Linked DNA regions of Homo sapiens. The protein of the gene in region 2 purifies or fractionates together with the protein of the main gene of each other region. This does not show direct contact. Each region holds a gene or a part of one and is shown on either strand. Other genes may lie near its edges. The genes, in order: KIAA0319L and CNNM4.

Region 1 (3,810 bases), on a different chromosome or scaffold from region 2:
GGAATCCAGCATCAGGAGACTGGCCTCAAGGCTGGAGCCACCCCCACACCTTACCCCAGCCTGAGGAGCCAAGGAACAGGGCAAGTCACAGGCTCCTCTCCAGGCTGGGAGGTGCAGATGGGAAGGAAGCTTCCCTAGTCCTTCTCCCGGGCCCAACTGGTTGGAACAGTCCACTAAGGGGTGTCACAGAGTACGGATGAGAGCACACCTGGGGTCTCCTGCTGGTTCTTCATCTCCAGTATCCATGAGCTTTGGTTCAGGCCACTCAGTGACATTCTCTTTTCTTTACCTTTCAAATTTGGAATATTTTATCACCTCCCTCTATGGGTGGAATGACATGGTAGGCAGGAAAGCACAAAGAACTCAGGCTCTGGAGAATGAGCTTTTAGCTGCACCCTAGGTCAGCAAGGCCGCTGAGTGCTGGCACAGCAGGAGTGTGCAGTTTCAGTCCATGTAGACATTTGCTCTGTGGGCTCTTGTCTGCTGTGGCTTCACTGGATGCTAGGGTGGCAGAGTAGGTGCACACTTGGACAGGTCTCTCCTGCTGGGAGAGCCTGACTGAAATGGGGACTCTCAGAAGCAGTCCCAAGCAGCCAAATCACAGAACACACAAAGCAAGAACCGTATGAAGCACCTGGGGTCGAAGAAGACACCTGCGATTCTGCAAGCCATGGCAGTCCCTTCACTACTTATCCCTATAGATGCCGAGCGGCCACAGACATGAAATGTGGTCTGATAAGAAGAGTTCCAACAGCAAAGATGGCTGCCCTCTGGCTGGTGCAAAAACTCCAGAGAAAACAAACAGCAGGCTGAGATAGCAGGACTAGAGTGGGAGCTGCCAACAGGTGGCACCCCCTCAGCAGTGTTCTGGGTCCTGGGAATGCCCACGCCCAGGAGCTAACCTCCCTCCTTTCTAAAAAAGGTAACCAGTCAGGTGAGGGGTGGACATCTTAGGGAGAGGGGAGAGCCCTCTCCAGCACCACAATCTCATCATCCAATAATCATTCTCCCTTCTCCGGGGAGAAGGATCCAGATCTCCCTCACATACTGAAAGTGCCTTGAGAGGATTCCCAGCCATTCAGCCCTTCCTGGCCACACCTGACTTAAGGGTGGCAGTGCCCCGAGCTCTCCAGGCTGAGCGCATCCAGACCCTGATGCGCCTGCCATTCAGGACCACATGCGCCCAAGGACCTTGTCCATGTACAGCTGTGCCTGTGCCACATGCTCTGGGGCTTGGGCAGGGAGCTTCCTCACCCGCGTTGGTGTCAGGGTTACAGTTCTGGGTCTTGACTGAACCTCTCCTACTGAGTCTTCGGGCAGCGGAGCAGCAGGGCCACAGAAGAACACTGACCGCCAGGACATCTCCAGTGTGGTGGGGACAGTGGAAAGGGCCCTGGCAAGGGCCCAGGTCCTCCAAAGGCCCTGCCTCACCCCTTGAAATACCCACCTGTTCACAGCTGCCTCCTTCCCAAAGCCCCTCTGGCTATAGCAGTGAGGACAGGAGCCTAGGTTCAACCTAATATACTTCAATAGAAAGTTTTAGAAAAAAAATCAATAGAAAACAAAAACAACAACAAAAAACAACAGCAACAAGAGAAAACAAAGCCATAGCTGCTGAATGTAAAGGGGGCCTCCTGAGGGGGGCAGCCCTACACTTACCAGGTGGCACTGCTCTCCTTCCTCAGTTACTGTTCATCCTCAGCCTAAACTGGCTCCTGGCAAACTGTCCGTCCAGACTCCCGCGCACACACATCCTCTTTCCCCCCAACGGACCCACTCAGTTTACCCTTCTTCCAGCTAAACTTCTTCAGTTCCATACCTGACACCATATGGTCTTGAATCTCATTCTCCTCGTCCTCCTAGTGACTCTACTCTAGGCTGGACCTGCTAACCCACTGAGCCCAGAACAAGAACCAGTGCTTCCGGCCTGCTCAGACCCACACCGAACCTGAGCGGGCTCTCCCAGCTCCCTTCGGTAGACACTGCCCACAAGAGACCAGCCCTGCTGCCCTCACCTGGTCGCACGTTGTTGGTTTTGGTCACCTAGATGCCACTGGAACACCCCATGGCTCTCCCCTCTCCCTAAGATGTCCGATGTGCTGAGCTCAGGCTCCCATCCAATCTCACCTCTGCAGCGCGGCACTTCTCCGGGCCATCACCGCCCGTTTCTCCCCTCCTGCCTCAGAAGAGGCATCTGAACTCCATGCTCCCTTTCTCTCCTCTCTTCCCTTCTCCCTCCTTCCTCCTCAGTCAGGAAGCACCTCTCCAACGCACCACTCCTCTACCTGCATTCGACATTGCCACCCACAGATCTGTTCATGAGCCCTTCTCTGAGGAAGAGGAGGCCCTTGCCCTCTGCCTGCCATCCTGCTTCTCTAGCTTTCACTGCTCAGCTTCTAAAAGGATTTTTAAATATTCAGGGCCTTCATCTCCTCACTGCGCTTTCTAAATCACCTGCGCTTTCACTTCCACTGTCACTCCCCACTCTACTGCAGCTCTCTGATGGGCCAGGAGCTTCTCTGGTGCTATCAATTCTGATTCTTTGGCCTTTGCAGCAGCAAACACCGACGGCTGTCCCCTAATGAATCCCCTCCTCCCTCCTGGATGGTCATTCTTGGGGTCCTCAACCCTAGGCCTCTTCTTTTGTCCTTCAACATTCCCCCATAAGGGATGTGACCCTTTGTGGTGCTGATCCTCACCAGCAGATGGGAGATTCCTATTTCTACAGTTCCATGTCTGACTCTTCTGCTGAGTTCCATTTAATTCATCTTCTCTTACCCAGTCACTGCATCAGAGGTTCTGATTCTGTCAACAGCACTATCATTCTCCATCTCTCGGTTGGAAGTCAGCCCTGACCTTGCCAGACCTAGCTATAACCCACTGACACCACGCTGTGTGAATCACTGTCAGCTCCTCCTTGGACCAAAAATCTCCTTGCTGGTCTCCACACTTGTAGCCACTCCCCTTCAATTATTATATGTTGTCACCAGACTGATTTTCCTAAACCAGCTTATCCAAGACTTTGCTTCCCAGCATCACCAGGATAAATGTTTAACTCTGCAGGCTGATAGTCAAACTTTCACAATTTGGGCCTTGTCAATCTTTCATTCTCATTCCCTCAACTCCATTCATAACTGTCTTGCACCAAACACTTGATCTCCACCATTTCTTCTCCAGTCTCTCCCATCTCAGGGATACTACCACCACCCAACCCACAGAGGCTCAGTGCTGAAGCTGGGAGCCATCCTTCCTTTCTCCCTTCTCCCACACGCCTTGGCCAGCAGACCACTAACCTCATCAAGTCTTCCTCAAAAATGTATCTAGAATCTATCTGCCTCTCAACCCCAAGGACATTCTATCTAACTTCCTTTCAGCTAGCCTTTCCCCTCCAACCCCTGCATCTGTCAGCCACAGTTATCTTTTTTTTTTTTTTTTTTTTTTTTTTGAGACAGAGTCTGGCTTTATTGCCCAGGTTGGAGTGATCTCAGTTCACTGAAACCTTCACACCCCCAGGTTCTAGCAATTCTCCTGCCTTGGCCTCTCGAGTAGCTGGGATTACAGGCACCCACCACCACGCCCAGCTACACAGTTGTCTTTTTAAAATATAAACCAAGACCGGGTGCCATGGCTCACACCTATAATCCCAGCACTTTAGGAGACCAAGGCAGGCAGATCACTTAAGCCCAGGAGTTCAAGAACAGCCTAGGCAACATGATGAAACCCCGTCTCTACCAAAAATACAAAACAACAACAACAACAACAAAAAAACCTGGGGATGGTGGCGCATGCCTGTGGTCCCAGCTACTTAGG
Region 2 (3,810 bases):
ATTTTCTGTTTTCTTTTTATATTTTCCTATATAAAAAATTCCAAATTTTTCATAATCAATAGTATTAATTTCTTTTTTTCTTTGAGATGGAGTCACTCGCTCTGTTGCCCAGGCTGGAGTGCAGTGGCATGATCTTGCCTCACTACAACCTCCACCTCCTGGGTTCAAGCAATTCTGCGCCTGAAATCTCAGCACTTTGGGAGGCCGAGGTGGGCTGAACACTTGAGATCAGGAGCAGGAGAGTAGCCTGGCCAACATGGTGAAACCCCATCTCTACTAAAAATACAAAAAATTAGCCGAGTGTGGTGGCAGGTGCCTGTAATCAGGCAGACTGAGGTGGGAGAATCACTGGAACCTGTGAGGTGGAGATTGCAGTGAGCTGAGATCACGCCACTGCACTCCAGCCTGGGTGACAGAGTGAGACTCCAGCTCAAAAAAAAAAAAAAAACCACACACACACAAAAATACAATTTTATTAGAATTTATACAATGAGAATCCTAAATATAAGCCCTAAATTGATCTGCTTATTTTAGATGTTAAATCAGTTAGCAATAATTTCCGAAGTATAGAAACTTCTAAATTAGTAAAATCTAAAATAATTCTTTCCATCTTCGGCCTCCCTTCCCCTTCCCCGCTCCCCTTCCCCTCACTGGTTACTTTTCTCCTCCTGCTAAATGGATGTAGAGGCACAAAGAAAGACAGGAGGGACTGGTCACGGTGGCTCACACCTGTAATCCCAGCACTCTGGGAGGCCGAGGAGGGTGGATCACCTGAGGTCAGGAGTTCGTGACCAGCCTGACCAACATGGTGAAACCCCATCTCTACTAAAAATACAAAAAATTAGCTGGGTGTGGTGGCGGGCGCCTGTAATCCCAGCTACTTGGCAGGCTGAGGCAGGAGAATCCCTTGAACCTGCTAGGTGGAGGTTGCAGTGAGCTGAGATCGCGCCACTGTACTCCAGCCTGGCGACAGAGCAAGACTACATCTCAAAAAAAAAAGAGAGGAGGTCAGGCTCACCGTCCCATGGGCCTGATAACTGGGACAGAGCTGCCCTAAAGGGAGACAGGAGTGTTGGGGGGATGGGCATGAGCTGGGTTTTGGCTGCGTTAATTTCAAGGTATTAGTGACGTCAGGCAGCACTTGGATAGAGGAATCTGGAGGGCACGGGAGAGGACAGGGCTGCAGAGATTTATTTGGGACACTTGTACACTTGTATTTAAAGTTGCTAGGCAAGGGACCAGGTGTACAGACTGAGTTCTGAGTCTCTCCAGCATTTAAGTGGTCAGGGAGAAGCAGTGACTCCTGAGGTCAGGAGCACTGGGAGGGCTGTGCCCTGGAAGCCCTGGGCAGAAAGGGCTTCCAGGGGAAAGGAGGGAGTCACCGTTGGTCAGCAGGTCATCTGAGAATAACACTCCACCATGAAAGGTCATTGGTGACCTTGACCAGAGGCTCTCTGGCCCGGGGAGGGGAAAATTCTACCAGGACAAAAAGATGTCCCCTCTGGACAGACAAATTAGAAAATAGGAAAAACAGCCCAGGGGCCCAAAGCTCACCCTGCAGAGGGTGACTGACTGGCCCCTTAGGCTGGAACCTCTGTACGGAACCCCAGTTGGCCAGCCATCAGGCAGTGCCCAAAGCTCAGCTTGCAGAGGAGGGGTGAACGTGTACATGGTGCTCAGGGCTGTACACCTACAAGGTGCCTGTCATGCAGCTGGCTGCCACCCGAGGGTGCACACACACAGCAGTGGATCCCGCCAAGGGGTCTCAGAGAGGAGGCGGGGGGCGGAGAATGGTATCAAGACCCTGCTCAGGGAATCAGCTCATTTCATCCGCAGGAGGGCTGTTTCCACTATAAGAGAGGCTGCCAGGCCGGGCGCGGTGGCTGACATCTGTAATCCCAGCACCCTGGGAGGCCAAGGCAGAATGATCACTTGAGGTCAGGAGTTCGAGACCAGCCTGGCCAACCTGGCGAAACCCCGTCTCTACTAAAAATGCAAAATTAGCTGGGTATGGTGGCGCACACCCAGCTACTCAGGAGGCTGAGGCAGGAGAATCGCTTGAACCTGGGAGGTGAAGGTTGCAGTGAGCTGAGATTGTACCACTGTACTCCAGCCTGGGCCACTCCAGCCTAGGCTACACAGTGAGAGTCTGTCTCAAAAAAAATAAAAACAGAGAGAGGCCAGCAGCCTTTCACTGTGAGGGAACCTTTCGTTGGTCAGGATTTGGTCTGAGCCTGTGGAGTAATTAGGGATGTGAATGTAGTGGAGAGGTTGTTTTCTGACTTTGGGGGTCTGAACAAGGTTCTGCTCACTGAACCTTGTCAAAGAACACACCCCCATTCCCTGGGGCTCGATCTGTGGCAGTAAAAAGCACAGAGGGCCCTTGTCCACCCTAGAGACTCTCACCAGTTTCCCTTTGTTCTCCTTAATTTTGTTTTCCCCCTTAATTTTGTCTCAGTTTTGTTTTTAAATTATAAAAGTAAAACATGCCCATCAAATATAACAGTATAGAAGGGTATATAGAGAGGCAAAATAGCCTCCTCCCCAAACTCCAAATACCCCCAAAGGTGACCACTCTTACTACTTCTGGACGCTTCCAGGGCAGTTCAAGCCCACACACGCCTTTGTTTCTGTGAAGGCAGATGGCTCCATGCATTCTGTTCCGTGACTTGCTCTTTCACTAATAGCGTATCTTGGATTTCGTTCCGCGCTTTATTCATCCACCTCTGCCGTGTTCTCCCTTGAGTAGCTGTGGCCCCTTTTGAGTCCCTGTGCCCTATTGCTATTGCTTTAGGTTGTTTCTGGTTTGGGGCTGTTAAAAAGAATGTTGCCAAGAGCCCCCTTCTCTTGTGTCTTTTGTGAAGGTTGCCTCTCCCTAGGGTGAGTTCCTAGAAGTGGACCTTCTAAGTCCAAGGTTAGGAACCCTTGATTTTGTGACATCCTGACCAACTGGCCCCCTGAAATGTACCCTTTTACCTGGCCACCAACCAGATACATGTGAGGGCCTGTTTGTCTTCCCCATCCTCCACCATAACTGGGCATTACCAGGCTTTTTAGAGGGTGCCCATCTGGAAGGGGGTACAGGTTGGGCATCCCGAATCCAAAAATCCAAAATCCCAAATGCTCCAAAATCCAAAACTTTTTGAGTACCAACATGATGCTCAAAAGAAATGCTCATTGGAGCATTTTGTAGTTCAGATTTTCAGATTTGGGATGCCCAATGGCGTGTATTCTGCAAATATTCCAAAATCCAAAAAAATCTGAAATCTGAAACACTTCTGATCCCCAGTGAGGAATAAGGGATACTCAGCCTGTCAAAGCTGCCTTGCTTTAATTCCCATCCCCATGTGGTGACATGGTTTAGCTAGATGCCCAGGCCCTTCCAGGCACTGTCTTTCTGGAGGGCACTCCTGTATGGACAGCCTCCAGCAGGCACAGAGGCCTGGGGGCGGACCCCAGGGTCCCGGCCTGGCCCGCTGCCGCCCTGCTGGAGGGCCTCACAGATCTCTTGAACTTGTTGGCTCATCTCTAGGAAGATACTGGGGTATTTTCAATCGAGTCCAGCCATGGCTTTGTCTAGCAAGACGCTAAATGTTTTTTGACCAGAACCTGTAGTGGGAAATACATATATCATAGCCCCTGGCATGTGTGTGAAAAACTTTCACAATGCAGTACCCCCCCCCCCATCACATGGGGTGTATTGTGAGAATTTTTACTTTAGTCATGAGACCTCACATTCTCTCTGCTCTCCCTAAGAGGCCCTTAGAAGTTCTTAACAGCCCATCTTGGGCTGGGGGATTTTCTGTGGCC

Evidence for each region.
Region 1: the proteins of CNNM4 (region 2) and KIAA0319L fractionate together in Homo sapiens (co-fractionation; one large-scale study listed by BioGRID). This does not show direct contact.

The regions. Positions count from the first base shown.
Region 1 is NC_000001.11:35,435,097-35,438,906, forward strand, and holds part of KIAA0319L (dyslexia-associated protein KIAA0319-like protein), read right to left. Parts: intron 502-3,810; coding exon of another isoform or gene 386-501; exon of another isoform or gene 209-385; intron 1-208.
Region 2 is NC_000002.12:96,791,814-96,795,623, forward strand, and holds part of CNNM4 (metal transporter CNNM4 precursor), read left to right. Parts: intron 1-3,810. UniProt on the Homo sapiens protein: Probable metal transporter. The interaction with the metal ion chaperone COX11 suggests that it may play a role in sensory neuron functions. May play a role in biomineralization and retinal function.